4 linked regions of the Homo sapiens genome follow. The protein of the gene in region 4 purifies or fractionates together with the protein of the main gene of each other region. This does not show direct contact. Each region holds a gene or a part of one and is shown on either strand. Other genes may lie near its edges.

Region 1 (4,549 bases), on a different chromosome or scaffold from region 4:
GCATGAACTTGGGAGGTGGAGCTTGCAGTGATCCAAGACTGCGCCGCTACTCCAGCCTGGGCGACAGAGCAAGACTCCGTCTCAAAAAAAAAAAAAGTGAAACTTTCTAGGAAACATGGAAAGAGGCATTTGACCTCATCATTAAATGCAATTTCATTACAACTACCCAAGTCAAGTTTTACCTTGATCTTCGCTTCATCAGGTCCCTTTGTGGACTCTTGCACCTTGCTCCCCTGTTTCTCTCTCTGCCTGTAGGTCTTCATAACTCCACATAAAAATGCACTTTTGTTCTAGAACAGACAAGTAATTCAATAAAAAGAATCACCAAAAATATCTGAAGGGTCAGATACATAATTAAATTTAAATTTCAGAAAACCAGGATTTTAACAAAAGATTTACTGATTCATTCAACAAGTATTTGCCGAGTGGTTACTATGTGCCAGAGATTGGAGCAGACAGCAGTAAGGCAGTATAGACCTCAGGGAGCTTACCTTCTACCCTGGGAAAACACAGTCTTCCACTTGTTGATATGTGACTGTATCTAGACTGTCTTTGCCAGATGTCGGAAACTATTCCTCCCACCTACATTTTCCTCCAAGATAATAAAACAGGATCAAATAACCCCCAAATGTTAAAAAGCTGAGTAACATGTAAAAACCTATAGTAACAACCATCAAAACTTGGCTTTAATTTTAAGTTTTTAAAATAACTTACTGCACAAGGGGGTGGGAGAAAACTTTTGCTTTATACTTGGGCTTCTGAAACTCTGCCACAAGCAGTTTTTTTCCTTTAAACTAATTTTTTAAAAGAAGAGGTAGTCACAAACAAAAAATACCACTTCTCCATAGGAAAAAAAGTAATAGTAAAATAATTTCAGATTACTAATTGTTCAAAGACATTTCTGAGTAACGACCTTACCTGAACATGTGATAAGTCACTTTCCTTGAACTGCTGTAGTACAGACAGAGCTCCTTCTTCATTAAATTCCCTGAGAGCATCAATTGCTCTTTCATCAAGATCGACATAAGCTACCAATCCTAAAAATTAAATTGAAAGGGGTAACGTTATTGCAACAAAAGGGGTAATCTAAGCTCTACTGACGTTTAATCAAGAATTGTTACATTCAATATGATCACTAACAAACTGTATTTTCATTTAACTATATGCATATACGCAGCTATCCAAATACTACATAGAAAGGTCCAGGACAAATATGAAAATAAAGATAAAATGTCAACAACCAAAAACATGAATTTCAATCTCCATATCCACAAACCTCCCCCGCCAAATCCTAACATCCATTTCCCACTCCCCCAAAGGTATAAGTCTTGAAAGTTAAATCTGATGTACATACTGTATTACAGATTATGCATTAATACAACAAATTTTGGTTTATATTAGAGTGATAAGAATACATTGCGTTTTCCAAGGATAAACCTTCAAATTACAGACGGTTACAGTTGATGCTAACCACCTAAGAGGTGGAGGAAAATCTGAAAACAAATTTTACTAAGTAATTCTTTCCACTCTCCAAAAAGTGTCAAAAGGCTTTCCCTCCTGAACACCAAAGATAAACTGAAATGCATTTGTTTATCTGAGCATCCACTTTGCTGCAGTCAGAATGTGGAAAGGCATAATTTTAAACTTCTACAAATGCAAGTGCAGCTTGATTAATCAATTCTGAAAGTCATACTTTAAGGCATTCTTTGTTCTTCTGAAGTGACAAGCTGAGATTTAAAAGATGCTGTGGCATTCACATTGACTGTCAAGAACGACAATCATTTTCAAATGGCAATAAAGACTTTATGGTCTTACAAGTAAACTTGACAGAAAATATATACACTGCATTTCATATATGTAAGTATATTCAACTGCACACAGAACATCTACTAAGTTTAAAATATAATTTCTTAAGTCTGTTAAGTTTGTGTCATATTTACATATGGAATATATTTCAGAATTGATCCAACGTAAAATGCAAGTATTTCGTAGATTAAAACCCCCAAGTTCATATGAACATGAAAAGTGACTCCATTTTGATAAAGCTAAAAAGAACTTTATTCCATATAGTAAATTTTAAATAAATGTAATGCCACTTCCAAAGTTACTTTTTAAAAAAGTTGCCATGATTTGTTTCAAAAGCTCGAAATGAGCATGTGTAAATAACTGGAGCTGCCTCACTTGAATATTCCATACCACCACCCGAAGCCACAACTCAGGACACCCATCAATCCATTTTGTCAAACCAAGTCTACGCCCAAACCATCAGCCTCTTATCAATAACAAAACACTCTACAAGAGAGCATCTCTAAGCAGATCACTGCCAATTCTCTATGGCAGAATGTCACAGAAAGTTCCTGAGGACTGATTTTCAAATGCGACCATGACCCAGGAGTCATTTTTATAAGTCATTTTAATGTCTAAAATTATGCTAAGCTTCCCAGATTTAAAAATTTTTTAAGGACAAAAAAAAAAAAACAGCTATTTGCTACTACTGTACTTAAGACACATTTGTGAGTGAGACAATTCAATTCTCTCTCAGAATCTGAATAGGCACACACAACACAGAGGAAGAAAGTTTCCATCTATGTCCCCAAAGGAGGAGGACACATTCATTTATGAACAACGCTCCCTAAGGGTAAATATTTCTCTCCCTCTTTAAAACTTCAAACCACTTACAACCAACTATATTAAGATGTTCAAATTTGCTTAAGCACTTAACCATGGCACTTCTGGATTAAAAAAAAAAAAAAGAAGCAGCTGTTACAACCAAACACTTCCAAATTACGGAGAGATGTGGATTTCTATTAGAAACTAGACAAGCCACAAACTCTCAAGGAGTCTGACATTTATTATGGTTTCAGACGATACAGCTATCCTCTTGTTATGCCACCTAATCAGACCTAAGCTGATTTAACAATCACTTTAAGAAGGTAAAAGTAGAAAAGCAAAAGCAAAATGATGACTGATTTTGATTAAGAAAAAAATGTAAAATTTGGTATGCAGAAACATACATTTTTATGGGTGGTAAATCTAAGACAAATCGATGTGCTGTTCTGAAACAACTAAGACTGCATATTCAACACTAAGAAGGCTTCAAAATAATGAAATAAGAGTATCAAAGTCAAACCCAATATGCCTTCAATGAAGGGAAAGTAACAAACATTCAGCTCTACAGATCAGAAACAATAAGTATTATTTAACCTTAAAAAACTATAAAATTCAAAGTGGTTTGCCCTCACTTTCATAACCAGTCAGAAACAAGAAATGCATATTATACCTGTCTGAAATATTTCATCAAGTCTTTCTGCCACCTTCTGTGGGAGGCCTGCCTCTATCAGTGTCTTGTAGTGTTCTGTGTGAGTTACACTGGAAGTATCCATTGGTTCTTCCTCTTCTTTTAACTGTACCGCATTACCATTCACCTGATTAGCCATTTTATTATGCTGCTGGAAAAAATTCAGGAGCTATATTACATTAAGCCAGAAATAACTAGTTTGTAGGACAATGCATGATTTATCTAAACTAATTTGTATACATGCTGCTAATAACCTCTATCAAAATAATAATTTATTCCTCCTGTGATGTATCTGACCTAAATTGGCAATAATAATCCTGTAAAACCATAGAAAATGTACATGGAAGCATTAGATCTTTAAGGAACTTCATGTACACCGGGTAAGATAAAGGCTTTAATTTACTGAAGGTAGAATTGCTGATTAACAAAAGCAGCTGTTCTGTCCTGGTGAAAAGATCAAAATCACTACAAAATCCTTTACTAAAAAGCCCCTCAGCTCTCGGGTCTTACACAGTTTTAAAAAGTTTTGTTTTAAAAACAGAATGAACACCCACAGACCACTTAATCAAGATTTAAGGACTTTCAAATTTTCCTGGCTCTGCTTCAAATACAGTATCGGTGTGAAATAAGTGCCCTGTTTTCTCTAGTTCAACATGCTGGTGGTTTGGGTTTTCTCCACCTAACAATACAAAACGAAAACAAAAAAAAACCAACTTGACATTAATTTTTGTTCTAAGATTAATTCGCTATTCCCACAGATTTAAAAGAAAAAATGACCAAGTTTAAAAGCGAAACAATTGTTTTCAGTCCAAATAAAATACTAAGTGAGCTATAGTTTAGGTTGCTTCTTAAAAAAAAAGAGTACATGTTGAAATTTTCATATCAGTAAAATAAAGATGTAAAAACATACTGAAGAATGGACAACTTCTTCCAAATATTTCAAAAACCGTTACCTAATTAGGCTAAACTTCAGCCAGATTTCTCAGATTAACCTATCAAAAATAATTTTGTACATTCAGCCTGTAGGTAATGCTGAAATGGACTGACTCCCTGAAGAGAGAGAGTAAACAATAAACCATACAAGGCCAGTCTGTGTACTGCCTCAAAAGACAGGGAATTAAAGTGCATTTGTCTGTGGTGAAATTACAATGTGATGAAGATAATAGGCAGCAGAACAAGACATTGCAACACATACTAAATAAAAGACATAAAGGTGGATCTCAAGAAAAAGCCTACTTTTCTTGATGAAAC
Region 2 (4,549 bases), on a different chromosome or scaffold from region 4:
TGCCACCAAGGCTGGAGCACAGTGGCATGATCTTCGCTCATTGTAACCTCTGCCTCCTGGGTTCAAGTGATTCTCATACCTCAGCCTCCCGAGTAGCTGGGATTACAGGCGTGCACCACCACATCCAGCTAATTTTTGTAGTTTTAGCAGTGATGGGGTTTCACCATGTTGGCCAGGCCGGTCTTGAACTCCTGGCCTCAAGTGATCCGCCCATCTCAGCCTCCCAAAGTGTTGGGATTACAGGTGTGAGCCACTGCGCCCAGTCCACTTTAGGTATCCTTAACCCAATTTTAAAGATAAGCAATGGAGGCACAAAGAAACAACCTGCCCACAACTAAATAGAAGGTAACAGCTGGTAACGTGACAGATTTGTACCCAGGAAGACTGGGGTTACTTCTATAACCTTTTTTAAAAAAAGGAATTGAGACTGTGGACAAGGTAAAAATATTACTTTCATACACTGCTACTAAAACTATATTGGAAAACCCTTTCTAGGGCAACTTGGTAATATGGATCAAGTCTTAAATAATATTTTTACATGCTTTAATCAAGTATTCTACTTCCAGGTATTTACCTTAAGAAATAAGATGCACACAAATATGTAAGCCCAAGAATGTACATTAGAGTATTATTCATAATTTCAAATAAATTTACAGACAACCTAAATGTCCAACAGAATGGTTCAAAACATTTCCCCTTTTCATCATATTGTATAATTATAAAATTACCACTATAACAAATTTTAAAGATATAATAGTAGATGTCATTTGTTTCCCAAACCCACTTCTCTGACATGACAGTTGACAGCTTAGTGTATATCTATCTTCTCTTTATACTGGAATATAATTATTTTTTCTTTTTTTTTTTTGAGATGGAGTCTCGCTCTGTCGCCCGGGCTGGAGTGCAGTGGTGCGATCTCCGCTCACTGCAAGCTCCGCCTCCTGAGTTCACACCATTCTCCTGCCTCAGCCTCCCAGGTAGCTGGGACTACAGGCGCCCGCCACCACGCCCGTCTAATTTTTCTATTTTTTAGTAGAGACGGGGTTTCACCGTGTTAGCCAGGATGGTCTCGATCTCCTGACCTTGTGATCTGCCTGCCTCGGCCTCCCAAAGTGCCAGGATTACAGGCGTGAGCCACCACGCCTGGCCGTTTTCTTCTTTTTTTTTTTGTTTTGAGGCAGGATCTTGCTCTGTCACCTAGGCTGGAGTGTAGTGGCGCAGTCATGGCTCACTGCAGCCTCAACTTCCTGGGCTCAAGTGATTCTCCTACCTTAGCCTCCCAAGCAGCTGATACTACAGGCATGTACCACCACGCCCAGCTTATTTTTCTATTTTTTGTAGAGACGGGGTCTCCCTATGTTGTCCAGGCTGGTCTCAAATCCATGGACTCAAGCAATACTCCCACCTCAGCCTCCCAAAGCGTTGCAATTACAGGCATGAGCCACCACGCAGGCTGTTTTAATTTTTGAACCATGTAAATGTGTTCTGAAATAGAAAATAGGCCAGGCACAGTGGTTCACGCCTATAATCCTAGCACTCTGGGAGGCCAAGGCGGGTGGATCACCTGAGGTCAGGAGTTTGAGACCAACCTGGCCAACACGGTGAAATGCCATCTCTACTGATAATACAAAATTAGCTGGGCATGGTAGCACATGCCTGCAGTCCCAGCTACTCGAAGACTGAGGCAGGAGAATCACTTGAACCCGGGAGAAGGTTGCAGTGAGCCAAGATCACGCCATTGCACTCCCGCCTGGGCGACTAGAGTGAAACTCCATCTCTAAAAAAAAAAAAAGAAAAGAAAAGAAATAGAAAATAGGCTGGACGTGGTGGCTCATGCTTGTAATCCCAGCACTTTGGGAGGTCGAAGCAGGCAGATCACTTGAGGTCAGGAGTTTGAGACCAGCCCGGCCAACATGGCGAAACCCCATCTCTACTAAAAATACAAAGATTAGCCAGGCATGGTTGCGTGTGCCTGTAATTCCAACCTGGGATGCTGAGGCATGACAATTGCTTGAACCTGGGAAGTGGAGGCTGCAGTGAGCCAAAATCACACCACTGCACTCCAGCCTAGGTAACGGAGTGAGACTCTGTCTAAAAACAAAAACAAAAAAAAACAAGCATATATTTCTGATCCTGTGCCAAAAAATCAAAAACAAATACATTTATATAGCACATGGCACAGAAATGAACAATTTTTATATTATGTTCAATATATACACTGCAAATAAAAACTAATCCTGGCCAGACGCGGTGGCTCACACCTGTAATCCCAGGACTTTGGGAGGCCGAGGCGGGTGGATCACGAGGTCAGGAGATTGAGACCATCCTGGCCAACATGGTGAAACCCTATCTCTACTAAAATACAAAAAATTAGCTCGCCGTGGCTCCTGTAGTCCCAGCTACTCAGGAGGCTGAGGCAGGGGAATGGCTTGAATTCGGGAGGCAGAGGTTGCACTGAGCCGAGATTGTGCCACTGTACTCCAGCCTAGCGACAGAGCAAGACTCCGTCTCCAAAAAAAAAAAACAAAAAACAACAACAAAAACTAATACTGCTGACTAGAATGAACTACAGGCACTGGCAAAAATCACTGACTGTAGTCACTGCACTATCATGACTATTCCTGAATGTTTGTGAAAACTTAAAAGACACTCATATATAAAACTGGGTTCTGTTTTTGCAAAAACCACAAATCAATTTGTTTTGGATTTTACCTATCTTATGGTATCCATTTACAGTCTTCACAGAGCCCTTCAAATTCCTAGGTAATATTTGCAGCCTGTTAGAAACTATACCACTACCGATGTGAGAATTCTGTATTTTAGAAAACAGAATTTACCCTCTTTTTAATTTCTTCTTGCCTTTTCTTCTGTTGCCGTTCTTTCTCTTTTATCTTCTCTGCTATTTTTTTCTTTTCTGAAATTTTTACCTCTAAAAGTAAAAAAAAGTTTTATTCAGTTATACTGAGTATTTTCCAGTTTATGGATGAGACAGACATGATACTTGTATACTATTAAGAGACCAAACCTTTCCCAGCTTCAAACAGTGATTTTTCTCACAAATAATGGGAAACTTCTGGGACTCTTCCTTCTCCTCTCTAATGTGACCCCTAAGATCCAAATATCTCTTCATATTTCCCCACCGTCCTATAGGCAGGGCTTAGATCATTCAACTATAATTAATGCCAGAACCTCTACCCTTTCCTACTAACAAGCACTCATACAGAAATACAGCAAGTATCTAATCTGATTATATTTTGAGGCGATAGAGAAAAGTTGCAGGGAAAACAGAATAAAGTGGGAATGGAAGGACACTTGGTTTCTAAATACCAAAATGTTCCATTTTGTGAGCGTTCTGTCATTTGTCTTAATACAAGTCACAAATGCTCAGCAAGACATAAAAACAAAAATGGAGGCGCCCCAGTGGCTCACCTGGTTTTACTTCTGCTTCCTCTTTTTTTTCATCATCATCGTCATCCCAGTTATCCTAAAGAAAAGGACTTCCATTAATAATTCTTGCATGTTTGCTTTTCTATGTGAACTTTATTATCAACTTGACTAACTCCAGAGAAATGTTTGTTGGTATTTTTTTGTACTGCATTAAATTTATAAATTAATGTAGGGGGAATTGACATCTTATAATGCTGAGCTGCCCTAACCAAGAATAAGAACTGTCTTTCCATTTGATCAAGTACATTTTTGTACCTTTCAGAAGTGTTTTAAAGTGATTTCCCTATTAGAGGCTCTGCGCATTTCTCTTTAGATTTATTCCTAAGTATTTCATCTTGTATGTTGCTATTATAAATAGGGTGTTTTCCTATTATGTCCTCTAGGTGGCTATTATTTGTGTATAAAAACCTATCGGCAAGACCCAGTCTCTGCAAAAAAAAAAAAAATTAAAAAATTAACTGGGCAACGTGGCATGTGCCTGTAGTCTCAGCTACTTGAGAGGCTAAGGTGGGAAGATCACTTGAGCCCAGGAGGTTAAGGCTGCAGTGAGCTATGATAGTGCCACTGCACTCTATCCTAGGCAACTCACTATCATAAAAACCCTGTCTCAAAACAAATAAACAAAAATGACTATTGGCTTTTTTATATGTTAATATCCTGCTACCTTACTGAATTCATTTATCACTTAAGTTAGATTTATCGTTGCTTCTCTAGGGTTTTACAGGTATGCTACCTTATCTGCAAACAAAAGATAGCTTTACTTCTCTACCAATCCTTAGGCCCTCACAAGTGATTTACCTAATTGGGCCAGCTAAACCTCTAGTGCAATGTTGAACAGCAGCAGAAGTAATGGGCATCCTTGCTTTCTTGATGGAAATGCCTCTATTGTTTCCCCATGAATTGCTATGCATCCCAACAAATTTATGCAATAAAATTTACCAGACTTTTTTTTTTTTTTTGAGACGGAGTTTCTTGCCCAGGCTGGAGTGCAATGTCACGATCTCAGCTCACTGCAACCTCCACCTCCTAGGTTCAAGCGATTCTCCTGCCTCAGCCTCCCCAGTAACTAGGATTACAGGCATACACCACCATGCCTGGCTCA
Region 3 (4,549 bases), on a different chromosome or scaffold from region 4:
CTTAGGAATGCAGACAAAGCCCGCCTATAAGGCTGATTTTTAAAGAAATCAAGAACAAAACCCTTCTTTACATTTTTCTTCTCAAATGTGAGAATTACTTTTATAACATATTGACAAGGTCATTTCATAAAGTTCTGATTTTCTACTTTAGACGATGGTTCTGTTTACTTACATTTGCTACAAATACTGTGCTTCCAAGTCTTCCAGCCTGTAATGCATGGATAATCTCATTTGGGATGTTGGGATTATTTAGGATACTGGGTGGGATAGTAATCATTCCTGGGCCACCTGGTCCCATACCCATCCCACCAGTCGTAGCCATCACCTTTTGCATTGCTCTCCTGGCATGTTCACCATCAGGATCCTAAAACAAGCACAAAAGGTGTTACGTTTAACTGACCCAGTACAACGCAAACCATGCTTGCACAGTAAATGATATTCTCAAGACTTAGAAACTGAAAGGTTGTTTGGAAAGCATCTCTCAAATCTATTAACAAGAAAGTCAAATGAACTCAACTACCAGCTTAGAAGAGTCCAGCTAAAGAAATAGGAAAGGAAGAAAAGGCATGAAGTGTAGCACTAAAAACACAGCTCTCAATTGCACTAAGTAAAAAAGAAAAGCAGGGTAGGGAGGGAAACATGATTAGCTGATATAATGTAGAACCGCCAGACTGAAATTAGAGCTTCATGGGCTTGGTATAGCTGAATCTTACTAATTCATCAATGGGGTTTTGTAACTTCTGCAAACCCCGTCAATGGCTTCCAGAAGTTTGAGAAACAGTTCTAGACCACACAAGCGCCCCCATCCTTCAAGTCCTTCAGGTGTTGGAGGCGTGTGTGTGAGGGCTGCGCAGTAAAACAACATCTGGGAAGGTCTGTGAAGCTCTGTACTGACTCTCTTCTTCAACTCTCTGTCCTGTCAATTACCACCATCAGCACTAAAAAAGACATCATAACACATGAGAGACCTTAGACCCTACCAAGCTTCACTCTGAATCTACTCATCTTCCTCCCCAAGAGAAGAGGTGAAAAGAAGTTAAGAGGGATGTTTTTTTGAGACAGAGCTTTGCTCTTACTGCCCAGGCTGGAGTTCAATGGCGCGATCTCGGCTCACTGCAACCTCCGCCTCCTGGGTTCCAGCGATTCTCCTGCCTCAGCCTCCCGAGTAGATGGATTACAGGCACCCCCCACTACGCCCAGCTAATTTTTTGTATTTTTAGTAGACAGGGTTTCACCATGTTGGTCAAGCTGGTCTTGAACTCATGACCTTGATCCACCCACCTCAGCCTCCCAAAGTGCTGGGGATTACAGGCGTGAGCCACTGCGCCCAGCCAAGAGGGATTTAATCAACAAAAAAACCTTCTTCCTCAAGGAATATATTTGATTCAGATGAGATGTGAAAGCAGGTTTGAGGAATAACAAACTCACTTTATTTTTTTATTTTTTAGACAGGGTCTCACTGTTGCCCGGGCTGGAGTGCAATGGTGCAATCTCAGCTCACTGCAACCTCCACATCCTGGGCTCAAATGATCCTCCTGCCTCAGCCTCCCAAGTAGCTAGGACTACAGGCATGCGCCACCATGCCTGGCTAATTTTTGTACCTTTTGTAGAGAGGGGGTTTCACCATGTTGCCCAGGCTGGAACAAACTCACTTTTTAAAAAAAGAAAAAAGATGGGCCAAGAAGAAGGGTCAGATGGAGTAAAACTTAATGGCACAAACCCACGGGCTCATGGTTTGAGAGTCCCTGAGACAACAAGGCCTCAGACAAATCACAGATATTAGAAGGTGGTCAGCAGCCACTCAGGATCTGCTTGGCCACCACCCCAAAGTCCTTGCAGGGAATGGCTGCTGTAGGCTATGACCGACACTCTTCATTAGAAACAACAGGCTGGCACTTGCTTTGTAAATGCCGTCTGGGACCATGACCGTCTTTCCCTAATTCCAAAGTAGGATCACTCAACAATTACACACAGTATCCGCAGTGTTAAGCAAGAGCTTACTTCTTTGACTTTCAGTGGTCTTCCGCTCAGACTATGCTTGTTTAGGACTTCCGCAGCTTTTTTCATGCTCTCTTCCATCTTGAATTCAACAACACTATAGAGTCAAAAGGAAACGAGTCGAGTGAAACCAGTCCTACAAGTTAGAAGGCTCAAATACCAATAAGTAACTAGACGATACTTACGCACATCCCTTTGGAGGAAGCCAGAGACCAGTCAGAAGAGCAAGGAAGGGGAAAAAGAAAAGAAAAAAATAGTAAATATCAATGACAGTTATAAACAAACTAAAAATATGATTTATGTCACAAAGTTAGTCTTTTAAAATGAACCCTTCTAAGGGGAAGCTGACAGAAGTGCCTCGCCTCGCCTTCCTTGTTAAAAGCTGGGCTCCTTAATATCTCCTTCTCCTACGCGTTACCAGCATTGCACTAGAGCTGCTGACATTTAATAAGCAGACCTAAATTCAGGGTCTCCAAGAAATCACACCAACTTTAGATCTGCTTCCCTCTGTACTCAATCGAGTCCTTACCATATTCCTCCTAAATCCATCCCTTCCGTAAGTTAAGCTCATCCTTTTGATTATTCTAAGCCATTCTATTGCACGACAGAAAATAGTTTATGTTCTCTTTAAACTAGGCCAATTTTGAACATTCAGGTTTTTAATATTTGGTTTACAATTTACTGGCACAAAGGCAACTTTTCGGAATCTTTGGTTCACACAACTTTCAAATTCAGCAAACAACCAAGAGTAACATTTTCTAGACAAGAACACACGTTTTACATTAATTATACCACCGCTAAAATTCCATGCATAATTCACACACAGCCAATTCCTCTGTTAACAAAGAGACAATGCTGCTATTGGTCCCCAGTTATCCAAATTGGGCATCCAAACAGAATACCAAAAAGCTCTTTGGCCAGCCATTTGGAAAAGCGGGACTCCCATTTGCAAATCCCCTCCCACCCCACTCAAATGTTTGGCAAAATCAAACATAGCTACTGTAACATGAGCACTCACTGCCTTCCTGATTTCATTCGATTCCACGCCACCATACAGTTACATTTTTCATGTAGTAAATCCACAGAAGAAATTCTCTCAGACACTTACCCTTGACTTTCCTTCAGCGTCCATTAAGAGCTCCACGTATGTTACCTCACCAACTACAAATCAGTTTCCAGACGACACATAAACCAAGGGAGAAAAGCCAAGAAAACAATGGGAATTTAGAACAATCATCAGCAACCTTGTATGGAGCCTCTGCCTTATAAGAAAGCCCAGAAACACTCCATATTCTCTAAACCACCGAACTAGGCATTACAGGTGTGCAGTAAAAGTAGGTGAAAACACGTTAACAATATGTCCTTGATTTTCCTCCCACCACAAACAAGCTATTCCACAGATTTCCGTATCAATTTCCCTGTCTGGAAGACTCATTCATGACTAGAGGCAATCCAAATCTATAGGAAAGAAGTCTGCGTGATTTACTTTTCTGGGGAAGGGAGGAGGTTTTACACATACGCTCTCATTGGTGGCAAGCAGGTGAAATGCATACAAATTGCGATGCCATCGGGCTGAGCTCACATGCTATAAATACAAGGACGCACGTATGCGAAGGTATAAGCTCACAGGCACACACGGCCGCAGGGCCAGCTTCACAGGTGAGCAACTCGTGCAATTGTACAGAGCCCCGCACTCAGGGGCCCTGAGCTTGGTTTAATGCTGTTATCGCTGCCATGACATTCTTAGTTTTTTTTTTTAACAAGAGGCCCCTTGTTTTCGTTTTGTGTTGGGCCCCACAAATTCTATAGCTGGTCCTGCACACAGCACTAGGCTCCACATCTGTAGAGGCAGAATGTTTGAATATAATAAGATCACAAAACCAGAGCAGCATCTGGATTCTCTTCAGTGAATTAGGCCAGGCTTCATTCTTGCCGCTTTCTAAACCTCCCCATTTAAAGGACACAAATAAATTCAAATTTAGGGCTCAGATTTTGTATCTAAACAGTTAAACAGACTCATATGATTCTAATCTACACAAAAGGGAAAAAACCAAAGCATTTCAAAAGTTTCTGCAGATTTTCCTCAAGGTTTGGATTGCCAATTCATGACCACCATGACCAGATGTTAGAATCCATCAAGACAACCACCAAAATGGCTGCTGAACTTGAAGATGGCACACAGAAAACAAATGTAAAGTGTTACCCTGGAGAAAACTATCTCTAACCAGACTCTCCAAAGGCAAAAAATGGGCTTTTGTTGTCCTCTGGATCGGTTTGGTTTAGCAGTACAAGGGTAAAAATAACCCGCTTAACGGCCTCAACAAGTCATGCCTATTCCAACTCTTTTGTTTAAAGGACATTAAAATTATGAGGCTATAGGAAGAAAAATTTTTAATGAAAAACAAGGTAAAATTATTTTACAAAAAATTTAAAGATCTGAAGGACATATTTATTAATGGCTCTGCACATTGGTTGAAGGCAAGAAAGCCAAGTGTCCAAAGTTTACATCTAGAGCCTCACCCTCTTTGTCCTCTCCTGAAATGTTTCAGAA
Region 4 (3,860 bases):
CCTCGTGTATATGGCAGTATCATAGAGGTTTTAGAGCTGGTAGAGATCTGGCAATCTAACTTAACTCTTTCTTGCTAGCAAAGGCTGTTGGTCACCTGACTGGCCTAACGGTAGGAGGTAGAAGGCAGAAGGAAAGTAACTGAATTGAGAAGCTGTTTCTGTTTAATAAGGTGTTGCTGAAGCTAGTTAAACCCTCTACCTGTCTTTAAACCCTCTACCTGTCTTTGGGTTAATTTACATGTTTGTCATCCCCTTACCTGGATATTTATAGCTGTACCCAGGAACCTTGTCTATACTGAGAATATATAGTGATGAGGGTTTTTCTTTTTCCCAGGTATTCCTGATTGTCATCAAGCTTATAGTAGATGAACCACTAAAATAATACTACAATTTGACATTAGTGTTCTTGTACTTTATACTATTGAAACTGAAAAATACTGTATTAAACCAAGTAATCTGACAGTCTATGAATGTTCTAAATGAATACCACCTCCAAGAAACATGGAAACAATGGTAACTGTTTTTCCTAGTAAACTCATTCACACCTATAAAATGAATGGAAATTAAATTGTTATGGTCACACAACGTCATAATGCGTTACAGGCAAAGCTGTTGACCACTTAGAGGTAGTATTCATTGAGAAACATTCTTAGACTGTCAGATTGCTTGATTTAGTGTAAAGTAATTTTTTTTTTTTTGAGACAAGGGTGTTTCACTCTTGTTTCCCGTGCTGGAGTGCAGTGGCGCAATCTTGGCTCACTGCAACCTCAGCCTCCCGGGTTCAAGTGATTCTCCTGCCTCAGCCTCCTGAGTAGCTGGGATTACAGACGTGGGCCACCACGCCTGGCTAATATTGTATATGTAGTAGAGACGGGGTTTCTCCATGTTGGTCAGGCTAGTCTCGAACTCCTGACCTCAGGTGACCTGCCCGCCTTGGCCTCCCAAAGTGCTGGGATTACAGGCGTGAGCCACCATGCCTGGCCAGTGGACAGTATTTTCTAGTGGGGAGAATTAAAGAAAAACTTTGTCCGGGTGTAAACCAGCTTTAAATCTTGGTTCTCTTACAGTGCCATGGTAGGGATAGTCAGTGGAGGCTTTCAAATTCAGAAAGATTGATAATACCTTAACATGGTTCCTATTTCTAATTAATAATAAAATGTATTTGTGCTTTTTTAATCAAAGGTTTCTACGATAAAGACAGTTCAGGGTGGAGTTCTAGCAAAGATAAGGATGCGTATAGCAGTTTTGGATCTCGTAGTGATTCAAGAGGGAAGTCTAGCTTCTTCAGTGATCGTGGAAGTGGATCAAGGGGAAGGTAAGTGATTTCTTAATCACCTTACGTGTATGTATAATAACAGTTTAATAAGTCGTTATCCTGACCACCTGTTTGGATGTTAAGCATTATGTCTGTTTGGTCATTGTATTTTCTTAGCCGTAAGAGGCTTTTACTAAATTGAACCTGTTACTTAGAAATTAGATGAAAATAGGAATATGCTCATTGGCATAATGAAATGAGTTATTCTATTTCTCGAGTTTTATATGTTCTACTTAAAAGAGTAAGTTCATCTAGTGAATGGCCTAATTTGGTTGGGATTTTTGTGGACTCTATAACAATTTCTAAACACCTTGTATTTTTGATTACACAAGTGTGGTGAACTGACCCCACGTGCCTAATAGCTGTGGTTAGTCCTGTGTCCTGATTTTTCGCAAACAGGCCTAAAACTCTTAAAAACATCTTAGTTCAGGTAAGGATTATTTTCTACCTTTTATCCAAAGTCTGTCACACAGGTGAATTGTCCTTTAAGTGACATCCTAGTATAACTAGGACGATTGATATTTGGTGTGCTATTTTCTTGTTTTCCCTACCATTAAATATATTTGGATGAGCACTTTAAATGAAGGTTGTGAGCTGTGTGCCGATTTCAAATAAAATCCTTATTCTTAATTTTGGCATCTGTGAGGCCTTTTAGGCTATACAACTTTATAGAAATGTAAAGATTACTGATTTTAGAAAACGAGGTTATGTAAATGATGCTGGTTAGAGAGCCTTATTTGTCAAGTAACTCAGAATTGGATTGTTGACATCCTTATGGTTAGCCATAACTTAAGTCTCCAGATACAGTTCTAGAGTAGGGATAAGAATCTGATAATGGTTAAATGATATGATTCTGATTAATTGCTTGTGCTGTTCAGGTTTGATGATCGTGGACGGAGTGATTACGATGGCATTGGCAGCCGTGGTGACAGAAGTGGCTTTGGCAAATTTGAACGTGGTGGAAACAGTCGCTGGTGTGACAAATCAGATGAAGATGATTGGTCAAAACCACTCCCACCAAGTGAACGCTTGGAACAGTAAGTTTTTGAAGTGTATGTTACTTGTGATGAAGCCTTACTAGCTAGTATAACAAATGAACTTATCCATTTTTTGATTTGAGGGAACTCTTTTCTGGAGGCAACACTGGGATTAATTTTGAGAAATACGATGACATTCCAGTTGAGGCAACAGGCAACAACTGTCCTCCACATATTGAAAGTGTGAGTATTTTTGCTTGACTTTTTAAGACACAGAGAGGTTAAATGTTTTCATGTTACATTAGAATGTGAGATGGGCTTCATAAAGTCATGTAGACCAGAGGCTTCATAGATTTGTGGAAAAGGAGAAGTTGAGTTCAGTGTCACCATTATGAATAATTTATTACCTAAAATAGAAAATGGGTCAAACATAGGAACAACCCAAAGTCTTCTCCAATGTGCAGTAAGCCTGGGGGTTGGTTTTTCTCAAAGTATAATGTGATAATTTTACTTAAACTATAAACTGAGTTACCAATCAGCTGTTGGTTGGTTGTTTCCATTATTAGTATAAAACAGAAATAGCTCTAGATAGCATTCCTAACCCCATTGAATTTCTTAACAGTTCAGTGATGTTGAGATGGGAGAAATTATCATGGGAAACATTGAGCTTACTCGTTATACTCGCCCAACTCCAGTGCAAAAGCATGCTATTCCTATTATCAAAGAGAAAAGAGACTTGATGGCTTGTGCCCAAACAGGTAAGCTCAACTCATAAGAGTAAAACATCATATTTCTTCTGTAAAGGACTAGACAATAAAATATTTTATTTTTTATGGGTCATGCAGTTTTGCAGCTGCTCTGCGCTGCTATTGGACTGTGAAAGAAGCCATAGATGATACATAAATTATTGGTTACGGCTGTATTCCGTAAGAGCTTTATTTATAAAAATAACAGGCTTTATTTACAAAATAGTCTCAGTTTGCTGACTCCTCTTAGAGGTGGAGCAGAGAAGCCACTTTTTGGAAAACTTAAGCATAAACTAAAAGTACTAATTATTAGTAATAGGGTAGTTAAAAAACACTGTCATCTACCAATGTCTGTTTAAAAGTAATGAGCAGGATTTGTTTGTTTGTTTTTGAACAGGGTCTGGAAAAACTGCAGCATTTCTGTTGCCCATCTTGAGTCAGATTTATTCAGATGGTCCAGGCGAGGCTTTGAGGGCCATGAAGGTAGATGTTTCTTTATAAAATGGGAAATTGTAGAACTTTGTAGGTGGCCATTGAGAGGGCTTTCTAAATGATGCTAAGACTTAAGTAGAATGAAAACCAGTTTTCAAGTGTAATCTGTAATCTATAAATTACAAAAGGGAATTATGTTGTGATGAACTTTTCAAACAGGGTAGGTAGAGTTAACTTAAAAATTAACTTATTTCTTAGGAAAATGGAAGGTATGGGCGCCGCAAACAATACCCAATCTCCTTGGTATTAGCACCAACGAGAGAGTTGGCAGTACAGATCTACGAGGAAGCCAGAAAAGTAAGTATGAGTTCCAGTGATTATTAGCTTTTT

What was found. The genes of interacting proteins can lie anywhere in the genome.
Region 1: the proteins of DDX3X (region 4) and HNRNPR fractionate together in Homo sapiens (co-fractionation; 2 studies listed by BioGRID). This does not show direct contact.
Region 2: the proteins of DDX3X (region 4) and EIF3J purify together in Homo sapiens (affinity purification with mass spectrometry; 2 studies listed by BioGRID, with this or other methods). This does not show direct contact.
Region 3: the proteins of DDX3X (region 4) and HNRNPM purify together in Homo sapiens (affinity purification with mass spectrometry; 2 studies listed by BioGRID, with this or other methods). This does not show direct contact.

What each region holds. Positions count from the first base shown.
Region 1 is NC_000001.11:23,337,572-23,342,120, forward strand, and holds part of HNRNPR (heterogeneous nuclear ribonucleoprotein R), read right to left. Parts: intron 3,450-4,549; coding exon of another isoform or gene 3,438-3,449; coding exon 3,281-3,437; intron 1,038-3,280; coding exon 919-1,037; intron 291-918; coding exon 183-290; intron 1-182. UniProt on the Homo sapiens protein: Component of ribonucleosomes, which are complexes of at least 20 other different heterogeneous nuclear ribonucleoproteins (hnRNP). hnRNP play an important role in processing of precursor mRNA in the nucleus.
Region 2 is NC_000015.10:44,549,811-44,554,359, reverse strand, and holds part of EIF3J (eukaryotic translation initiation factor 3 subunit J), read right to left. Parts: intron 3,485-4,549; coding exon 3,430-3,484; intron 2,930-3,429; coding exon 2,838-2,929; intron 1-2,837. UniProt on the Homo sapiens protein: Component of the eukaryotic translation initiation factor 3 (eIF-3) complex, which is required for several steps in the initiation of protein synthesis.
Region 3 is NC_000019.10:8,461,139-8,465,687, reverse strand, and holds part of HNRNPM (heterogeneous nuclear ribonucleoprotein M), read right to left. Parts: intron 3,160-4,549; coding exon 3,107-3,159; intron 2,192-3,106; coding exon 2,184-2,191; intron 2,096-2,183; coding exon 2,002-2,095; intron 365-2,001; coding exon 173-364; intron 1-172. UniProt on the Homo sapiens protein: Pre-mRNA binding protein in vivo, binds avidly to poly(G) and poly(U) RNA homopolymers in vitro. Involved in splicing.
Region 4 is NC_000023.11:41,340,302-41,344,161, forward strand, and holds part of DDX3X (ATP-dependent RNA helicase DDX3X), read left to right. Parts: intron 1-1,182; coding exon 1,183-1,315; intron 1,316-2,193; coding exon 2,194-2,352; intron 2,353-2,435; coding exon 2,436-2,535; intron 2,536-2,914; coding exon 2,915-3,050; intron 3,051-3,435; coding exon 3,436-3,521; intron 3,522-3,728; coding exon 3,729-3,827; intron 3,828-3,860. UniProt on the Homo sapiens protein: Multifunctional ATP-dependent RNA helicase. The ATPase activity can be stimulated by various ribo-and deoxynucleic acids indicative for a relaxed substrate specificity.